2 separate regions of the Homo sapiens genome follow, and region 2 is linked to region 1. The links come from fine-mapping of genetic effects on gene expression. A gene starts in region 1. The other region holds a variant in brackets. All regions are shown on one strand. Distances are between the middles of the regions.

Region 1 (4,379 bases):
GGACAGCTGTGCCTGCTCTGCAGGGAGAATAGGAAGCCTGGCCCCAGGGCAGATGTGCACTGAGAAGGGGTGACCTTTTCTGTAGGCAAGGAGGGGAGGAGAAAGGCTGCAGAGGCGCACTTGGCTGGGGCAGTGAGTGGGCCACAGGGCTAAGACCTCCAGTGGCGGCCCCTCAGCTGGGTGTGGGCGGCCTGAATCATTGAGGCCTGCTCTGCACCCACTCCATACATGAAGGAAGATGGGGGTCAGGGGCAAGGACAACAGGGCACTGCATTCTTGCTTTTGAAGGCCACCTTTGAGAGACTGCAGGAGAGAGACGCTAAAGAAGTCAGTGTGTGAACTGGGGTCAAAGGTCAGGGTGGATCTGAGAGGGTGAGCTGGAGGCTGGATTCCACATGGTGTGCAGGGATGGTGGGGATGGAATTGGGACACTGGGGTGAGGGGTCCTGGTCCCATGCTGTCCAACAGAGTGTGAAGATGAATCACTCCGAGTCTGAGATTCTCCATGGCTCCTGCCCAGGGAGGGCCCCTGGCTGCACTATGTTCTCCACGTCTTGCTGCGGACATCCGGCCACCTACTTTCTTGGCTTTTGTTCACCCTGCTTTGTTCTTCTATTTGTCGAACTGTCTTCTTTTGTTTTTCCTTTTCAAAAAGCAGGATAATTCATGCAGAGAATTCATTTTTTGAGAATATCAAGGCCTTTTAAGAAAGTTATTGTATAGGCTGGTCATGGTAGCTCATGTCTGTAATCCCAGCACTTTGGGAGGCCGAGGCAGGTGCGTTGCTCAAGGCCAAGAGTTTGAGACTAGCCTGACCAACATGGTAAAACCCCATCTCTACTAAAAATATAAAAAATAGCCAGGCATGGTGGCGTGCCTGTAGTCCCAGCTACTCAGGAGGCTGAGGCAGGAGAATCACTTGAACCCGGGAGGTGGAGGTTGCAGTGAGCCACTGTACTCCAGCCTGGGTGACAGAGCCCCTGTACTCCAGCCTGGGTGACAGAGTGAGACTCTGTCTCCAAAAGTATATAAATAAATAAATAAATAAATGGAAAGTTATTGTATAAATTATAATAAGCCAAGGCAATAAACTCCAGTAGGCTCATCTGCAAAGCCCCTAAATTCCTTCTCCCCTCTAGCTGCTCCTTTTGGCTGGAGCCTGCCTTCATTATCCATCACAGCCTCTCCACTTGGAATCCTATGTCCCCAACCCCTATGCCTCCCCAGACCCTGTCATTTCTCCCTGGCAGCCGTCTCACATAGAGGCTTCTCAAAGTTGACCCGACCAGAACAGAATTAGAGCAACCTCTATTAGGCAGCAGAATGTCGTTGTAGAGAGGGCAGGGCCTTTACCTCTGTGGGCACTGGGGTGTGTCTCCTTAGGACACCCCTGCCCATTACTCTCTCCTTCTCCAAATGGGGAGCATGGCTGGGGCTCCCTAACCTCCTGCTTGCGAGGCCTCTCTCTGGCCTCTGAGAGGGTCAGTGTCCTGCCCCAACCCATGAGATGACAGACTATAATAGCCACAGGATTAACATAGCAGGCATTGTCTTTCTCTGACTATAGGGTGGGTATTATGTGTTCATCAACCATCCTAAAAATACCCGGTAAACAGGTGCAGCCCCTGTGGCTCCAGTCCCCTGGGATCTGTTGGCTTCTGGCTGGAGATGAAGATTAGGGCAGAGGAGAGGTGAATTAGTCTCACTGAGTTCCAGGCATGAGACTCGGGTGTCCTTTGGAACCTGGGAAATCTAGATTCCAGGAAACCCATCTGGAGGGGGATGCAGAGTGTCTGCAGACCCTCAGACCTCCCTGAGCATAAAGGTGTGCCCTGCTGCCACTGCCATTCTGCTCAGCCCTGGAAACACTCACTGGGGTCAGCCTGCAACACTGCTCACATCACTCCCCACAGCCAGGCACCCTCGTATCCCACGTGCACCAGAGCCACTGAAAAATCCCTGAAAGCTGAGTCTTTAGCCCTCTTGGGCTTTTGGGGCATGGGTTCAGGGGCCTCATTTCCATATTGCCTTATAAGAGATGCAGGGTTAGCCCAATGGTCCTCTTCCCCCAGCTGCTACTTGCCCCTCTGGGCCTTCACTGTGGCCCTTTGCTCTCCCTCATTCCCCCTCCCAGTCCCATCTCTGCTCAGTCCCCACACCTGGTCTGGCTGCTCATTCTTTCCCTTTCTGCAGCTCGAGTCTCCCCAGGTGGGTGCTGGTTTCACTCAGTTGGTGGCACCTATGTGCACAGAATTTGCCTCTGCTCCTGAGCCACAAATTCACATGGCTTTCCGCCTATGTGCCTGTTGTGTGCATTGCAGCACGCATCTGCCCTGTGAGGTGTGTGTGTGTGTGTGTGTGTGTGTGTGTGTGTGTGTGTGTGTGAAGGGTGGGAGGGAGGAGGGGCAGCAGGAGGGGGCAGTGGGTCTGTTCTATTTTTACCAGCCAGTTGCTGCTGGACACAGTTTTCATAGCCTCCCCTCGGCTCTGCCCCTCACAGTCTGCAGTCTACGGCGAGGCACAGGCCAGCCCAGCTCCACGAGGACTGAACAAGGTAAGCGTCTGCAGCCCAGAACTTCAGATGTAGGTTGATCCCAGGCAGAGAACCTGGGGCTTTTGTTTAAGGAGAAAGCGAGGTCTTGGAGCTGGAGAAAACCATTTCTTGCCTGTGCAGTTGGTTTGTTGGTAGAACATTCCTAAAATACTCCCACAGCATTTTGTCCCACAGAATGGCATCTCTCCTGCAAAACTGTTGTGAGAGGTGAAACTTTTTCCTGGCCATTTGGAGGCTGTGAGCAAGGAGCAGAATCTTCCGTGAGGTTCCTTAGGAGCCCCAGGGCAGAGCCTAAGGGATGATGTTTTCACACAGGATGCCCAGCAGAGTGTGGGAGGGAGAGCGCACCCAGGGGAAGGGGTGGCCCTGGGATCAGAGAGCCAGGGTGAGTGCTCAAAGTCAGCAATGCCTGCAGCGGAAGAGAAGGAGGGTGCCTGACGCGCAGGACTCCCAGGGAGCCTAGAAGGCAGGGCCAGAGCTCCCTGCTGGCCAAGGAAACCATCTTGCTTCTGTGTTCTTTGTCTCTGAGCGACGCTGTTAGCTCCCTTTGCCTATCCCTCTGTAGTGTAGCACAAGAGCAGAGGAGGGCAGACCGGCAACCCCTCTTGACTGCTCCTGCTCAGAGCTCCTGGCTCTGAGAAGCAGCAGTAGATACTGGGGGTCCTCTTGGAGGAAGGCAATGGTGGCGGCATTTTGGGTTGGGGCACAGGAGCCAGTGAACACATAAGCCAGGGCAGTATCTACAGGGTAACCCAAGGCTTGGGGCAGGGGGCCGTGTGGCGGTCCCTGACTCAGGTGGGGGCTGAAGGCAGCACCTGCCACCAGGTTTGGGAGTCACAGTCCCACAGCAGCTCTGAGATTAGGCTTTGCTGTTCAGAACTCAAGATGGGGGCAGCCCAGCGCCATGCACTTGGGAGTGTTAACCGTCAGTCAAGGAAGACAGGGATGCCCTTGAATGGGGGTCCAAGGTCAGGGGGCGGGGAGCAGGGGGAAGCACATGAGCCTAACTAGATACTTGTGGACGTGATCATTGGGTGTGCAAAGAGATCAGTTCTTTCCCCTACATATACACGCTCTCTCTCTCACACTCACACTCTCACACACAGTCACTTACACACACTTACACACACAGACTCAATCTCATAGTCTAGCGGATAGTCCCTTCCACGCTGCAAAGCCTCAAGGAAGGGAAAGCCCAGCTCTGAGGCAACCACCAGAGACTCTTTGCTCCCCCCCTCGGGGGGAGGATTTTCTCATTATCTCCTTGCTTGCTACTTGTAGAGGAGATGGAATCCTGGCTCTCCAAGCCTTCCAGTGGCTGCTATCTTCATCCTGACTTATCAGTCCTCGCTTGTCTTCCACAGAGCCTGGCAAGGGCCCCCGTCTGAGGGGTGTCAGAGCACAGGCTGAGGCCTCTTGCCTGACGTGGGACCCCTTGGTCTGGCATTTGTCAGTGAGGCAGGCTGGGGGCAGGCCCCGGAGCTTGGCAGGAGGTGTAAACCGGCCTTGGAAGGTAGGGCCCCACAATGGGGACAGTTGGATCTCTGAGGGAGACAGGGAGGCATGATCACTGCCAAATGCCCACCAAGGACAAGGCACATCCCAGGGAGACAGACGCAGACCTGGTGCCCTCTGGACACTGGCATTCCTGGAGGCTGATGATGGACAGATGGGCCTGGAGGTGGCTCTTCGCCAGCTGGTGTTTCCTTTGGACTTCCTCAGTGTCTTTGGAGAAGCAGAGCCCTAAGAATAAGCAGCTGCCCATAAAATCTAATACCAGCCAAGCATCTCAGGAATTCATGGATTGTCTCCATACCCCTCCCTC
Region 2 (4,379 bases), 22 kb after region 1:
CCCTTCTCATTTTCTATATTCAACTTAATTCTACAGGATAAAGGCTTTTTTTTTTTTTTGAGACAGAGTCTTGCTCTGTTGCCAAGGCTGGAGTGCAGTGCAGTTCAGTGGTGTGATCTTGGCACACTGCAATCTCTGCCTCCTAGGTTCAAGTGATTCTTTTGCCTCAGCCTCCCAAATAGCTGGGATTACAGATGTGTGCCACCACGCCCAGCTCATTTTTTGTATTTTTAGTAGAGATGGGGTTTTGCCATGTTGCCCAGGCTGGTCTTGAACTCCTGACCTCAAGTGATCTGCCCGCCTCAGCCTCCTAAAATGCTGGGATTACACGTGTGAGTCTCCATAACCGGCCAAGGCTGACTGACTCTTTAGCACAACACACAAAGTCCTTACTACCTGTCTCCAACCTTTCTTTTCAGCCTTGGAAGGGGCTCAATGCTTCACGCAGACTAGTCTTCTCTCTGTTCCACACACACCTTTCATGTTTATGTCCCAATGTCTTTGTTTATGCTGTGTCCTATAGCTGGATGCCCTTACACCCTTTCTGACAGTTGAATTCCACTTACCCTTCAAGGCCCAACTTAGATGTTCTTTCTTGTGTGAAGACTTCCCCAATCCCTCCTGATGACACAATTTCCATTTTTAATCACAGTCTGACTTGAATGAGGCTCGGGGTATATGTGTGCTTGTGTATGTGTGTGTGTTCACCAGCATGTGTTTGTCTTCACTGATAGACTGAGAATGTCCTGAGGTCAGGAACCGAGTCCTTATCATCTTTGTGTCACTGAATGTCAAAGCCACTTGTGATTATAGTGGGTAGAATGAATTATAATGGGTAGAACACATCCCAAAAAAGATGTGTTCAATTCATAACTTCTGGTACCTGTGAATGTGACCTCATTTGGAAATAGGGTATTTGCAGGCATAATCAAGCTAAAATGAGGTCATACTAAATTAGGGTGGAGGGATACTTGAACACAAACAAGAGACACAGGCAGAATGCTGTGTGACAAGAGAGGCAAATCTTGGAGTAATGCAGCTGTATGCCAAGGAGCTCTGGGAAGAAGCAAGGAAGGATTCTCCTCTGGAGCCTTTGGAGAGAGGCTGGCTGTGCTCACATCTTCATGGCAGACTTCTAACCTTCAGAACTGTGAGAGAGTAAACTTCTGTTGTTTAAAGCCATCCAGTTTGTGGCACTTCATCACGGGAGCCCCGGGAAATGGATGCACTGATCCAGCACCAAGTACAGTAGCTGGCACTTAGAAAGTATCCCATAAATGTACAGTGTCTGATCTCAAGGAACTTTCTGGGCATTGACATATATGTCATTCACTTTTCCTTACTTCTAGGGTTGTCTGCATACAAACTTTCCATGTCTTTGGGCTTTTATATCTGTAGAGAGGCTGTTAGATTTTGGGCTTTTAGAAACAGGACTGTTCCTGCCTTCGTGAAGTGTCCCTGGCATGACCAGGCTTCAGATGACTTCATAGGAGTATTTCTCTTCCTGTGTTGAGGTGTCAGCACTGACCAGCCATGGGAAGAACATTCAGTAGGTCCCTAGGGAGACAGCAGCTTCCCTGACAGTGTCAGGCCCCGGGTCAGAGGATCCAGGGACCTAGACTATTGGGGTCCCCTCTTTCTCTTTTCCTGTAAGCAGCATACAGCTCCAGGGCCTGCCTTGGCCTCTGTTCAGAACTCCCTGGAGCCTTGTCGATATTCATCTGTGCACTCCAATGTCACTAGCAGGGAACTCATATGATTTCCACAACCTGGAAGGAAGCAGAGCAAGGTATCGTAACATCCACTCCACAGATAAGGAAACTGAAGGAGTTTGTCCCAAGTCACACAGTTCACAAATGTCAGAATCAGAGCTCAAGTGTGCAAGTTACCAGTCCAGTTCTCATGTCCTGGACCTCGTCCCACCCTTGCCAAGAAGGAAGGCTCCCTGGAGGAGGGGGTACTTCGGGAGGGGGAATCTCAACAGGCTGGCTGTGTCTGTGTTTCCAGGCTTCTGCCCGGCAGCTAGCTTGCCCTTTGCCGTGAGATCTCAGAGCTGGAAGGCCTGACATGAGCACCAAAGAGAGGCTGAGGCTGGGCAGCGAGGCCCAGGAGCATGAGGGCAGTTCTGGCTCTGGCTCAGGCTCCCTTTTGATATTCTCATCCTGGCGCTGGGGCTGTGCCTCCTTCCTCTCAGGGCAGGAACAGCAACTGTGCGCTGACCCTGCAGTTCAGATCCATCAGGGAAGATAAGATTCCCCATGCTCAACGCCTGACCCTCTCTTAGCCCAAGCCCACCTGAGGCTGGTTCCTGGATAGAAAGCACCTGGCCCCGCACCAGCCCAGATGGGCACCTAAAGGGAGCCAGGTGGTGTCAGGGGTGCCTGAGCTGTCTCACGGTGCTCCAAAATTCGAGTCCTAGATATCTGTGTTTAATCTTTCCT[T/C]GGGGAAGAAAAACTGAGCTTCCTCTGCCCTTATTATACACCCTGCCACTCTAGCCCAAAGTCCAGTATCAGGGAGCAAGGACAGTGCCTTTGACATATTTGTGCTTTCACAAATGTTTGCTGAATTGAGTCTAAGATTCTCCCTTTGGGTGGGGCTGGGTCTACCAGGGGCATGTTTTGTGTGCAGCTCAGAAAGCAATGCCTCATTCATCTCAGCGAGGCCTACTGGGACGGTGGGCCCGGGTGGGTTCCGAAGCCAGGGAGTGGGGAGGGCGCTCCCTGCGAAGGGGCCCCGAAGGCGCGGGCGCTCTAGACCCGAGATCACAGTACCTGCGCTAACTTTTCCGCTCGGCTTCTTGCTCTTGAGCGTCTCCGGGCTAAGTCGGGTTCCCGGCAGGGGTCCCCGCCCCCAGCCCAGCTCCTCGGCACCCCGGGCCGCGGCACAGCGCGGGGAGGCGTCCCAGCGCCAAGCTGGTCGGACTGGTTCTGAGCAGGAAGTCTCCCGCCCTCGCCCCGGGCAGCCGACCAGCCCCACGCCGGCCCCGGGCGTCCGTCGTTCGGTCCCGCGATCCGTCCGACGGTCCACCCAGTGCTTGCGGCCTCGCGGCCGGGCCGGCCTGGGCTGCAATCAATGCGGCTTTGTCTGGGACGCCCACATCCCAGAGGCCATTCCCGGGTCGGCAAATCGGAGCGCGGCCGGGGCGCGCGGGGGTGAGATAAGCGGCCATGTGATCCCACCTGGGCTGGAAGGGGAGGGGCGCCAGGTGAGGCGGCGGCCGGCGGGGCGCGGGCGGCCACGCGGGGCTCCTGCAGCATGGCTGTCAGCAGGAAGGACTGGTCCGCGCTGTCCAGGTGAGCGCCGGAGGGAGCCGGGAGGGGCGGGGGGTCGGCGGGGAGCCTTTGGGTCTCCTCTCCTCGGGGCACCGGCCTCCTCCCCGCCTGGGACCCTGACACTGAGGCTGGATCCTGGTCTTGCTGCGACTCGCGGGAGACAGGATTGGGGCCAAACTCGGGACCCCTGAGGTTACAGGGTGGGTCTTCTCCCCTCGGGGCCTGAGGCCCCACACAGGGTGCTTAGGGGAAGGCTGGTCCTCAGTCTGGACGCCCGCTGGGATATGGCCCCCCCTGTGGAAGGTGGAAGCAGGAAGGAACGTTTTGGGGGATTGTGGAGGTGTTCAGGAGTAACCTCCAAGCCTCATTCCTGAGAGAAGCCTCTCTCACTGCCCCCGTGTGTCTCTGGCGGAGAGGACCCCTGGGAGGTGTCCCACAGCCCCTCTTGGGAGGGGGAGCAGGGAGAGCCGTCTTGGAGGGGTCAGTGAAGAGGACTGGAGGGAAGCAGACCCGTCTCCCACTAAGGACGCTCAGAATCTCAGCATGGCATTTTGGGGTGGCATCTGGGCTGGGAACCTTAAGATAGTTGCCATCCCCATCTGTGCTGCTGCAATCTTTACTTGTACACTGGTCTCCTAAAGGGTCGGGGATGAGGCATCCTACCCCTGCCTGCTGGACATCCCATCAGGGTCCGAGAGGCCTGGGGAAGGCGGGTGTTCAGAAGGCAGCACCCCTCATGGAGATTGGTGACCTCTAGCGACTTCTCTTGGAGCGACCCTGCACCTCTGCCAAGAAGGCCCCCTGTGAGCATTTTCACCTCATTCCTCCACTGGGCGCCCCCGTCCCCCATCTTGTCCCTAAGGAAACTGAGGCTCCTGCGGTAGCCCAGAGCTGGAGCCTGCTCTTTTGATCCCTTTCTAGCCAGGTAGATATTAGCCTCTTAGCTCCTCCCAGGTGGGCATTTGGGTCTTGGCCTTTCCTGAGCCAGGGCTATCTCTGCCAGGTGCAGACCCTCCAGCCATTTGGGTCCTGTAGGCTTTCCCCAGCAAGGCATCTTTCACAGGTTTTTCCAGTGCTCTAGTATGTCCTCTACCCCGCTCCTGCCCT

Alleles and levels. Alleles are on the strand shown, and positions count from the first base shown. SD is a standard deviation of normalised expression in the study named.
As copies of C replace T in region 2, the expression in lymphoblastoid cells of the gene that starts at base 2,497 in region 1 goes up (small effect, 0.33 SD a copy in GEUVADIS).

What was found. PIP is the estimated chance that this variant, and not a neighbour inherited with it, causes the effect.
Region 2: its variant is the best candidate, but not a certain one, in a credible set for the expression of TNNI1 in lymphoblastoid cells (GEUVADIS, PIP 0.83).

Annotation. Positions count from the first base shown.
Region 1 is chr1:201,419,848-201,424,226 of GRCh38, reverse strand. It overlaps TNNI1 (troponin I1, slow skeletal type), which reads left to right and starts at 2,497. Exons shown (of 9, transcript NM_003281.4): 1 at 2,497-2,554.
Region 2 is chr1:201,398,183-201,402,561 of GRCh38, reverse strand. LAD1 (ladinin 1) reads left to right here and starts at 3,238. Exons shown (of 10, transcript NM_005558.4): 1 at 3,238-3,293. The coding sequence starts at 3,256. It overlaps LOC101929343 (a long non-coding RNA gene), which reads right to left and starts at 3,071. Exons shown (of 2, transcript XR_241172.3): 1 at 2,772-3,071; 2 at 1-1,769. RefSeq lists an enhancer at 2,880-3,542. The variant T/C (reference allele first, on the strand shown) is at 2,442.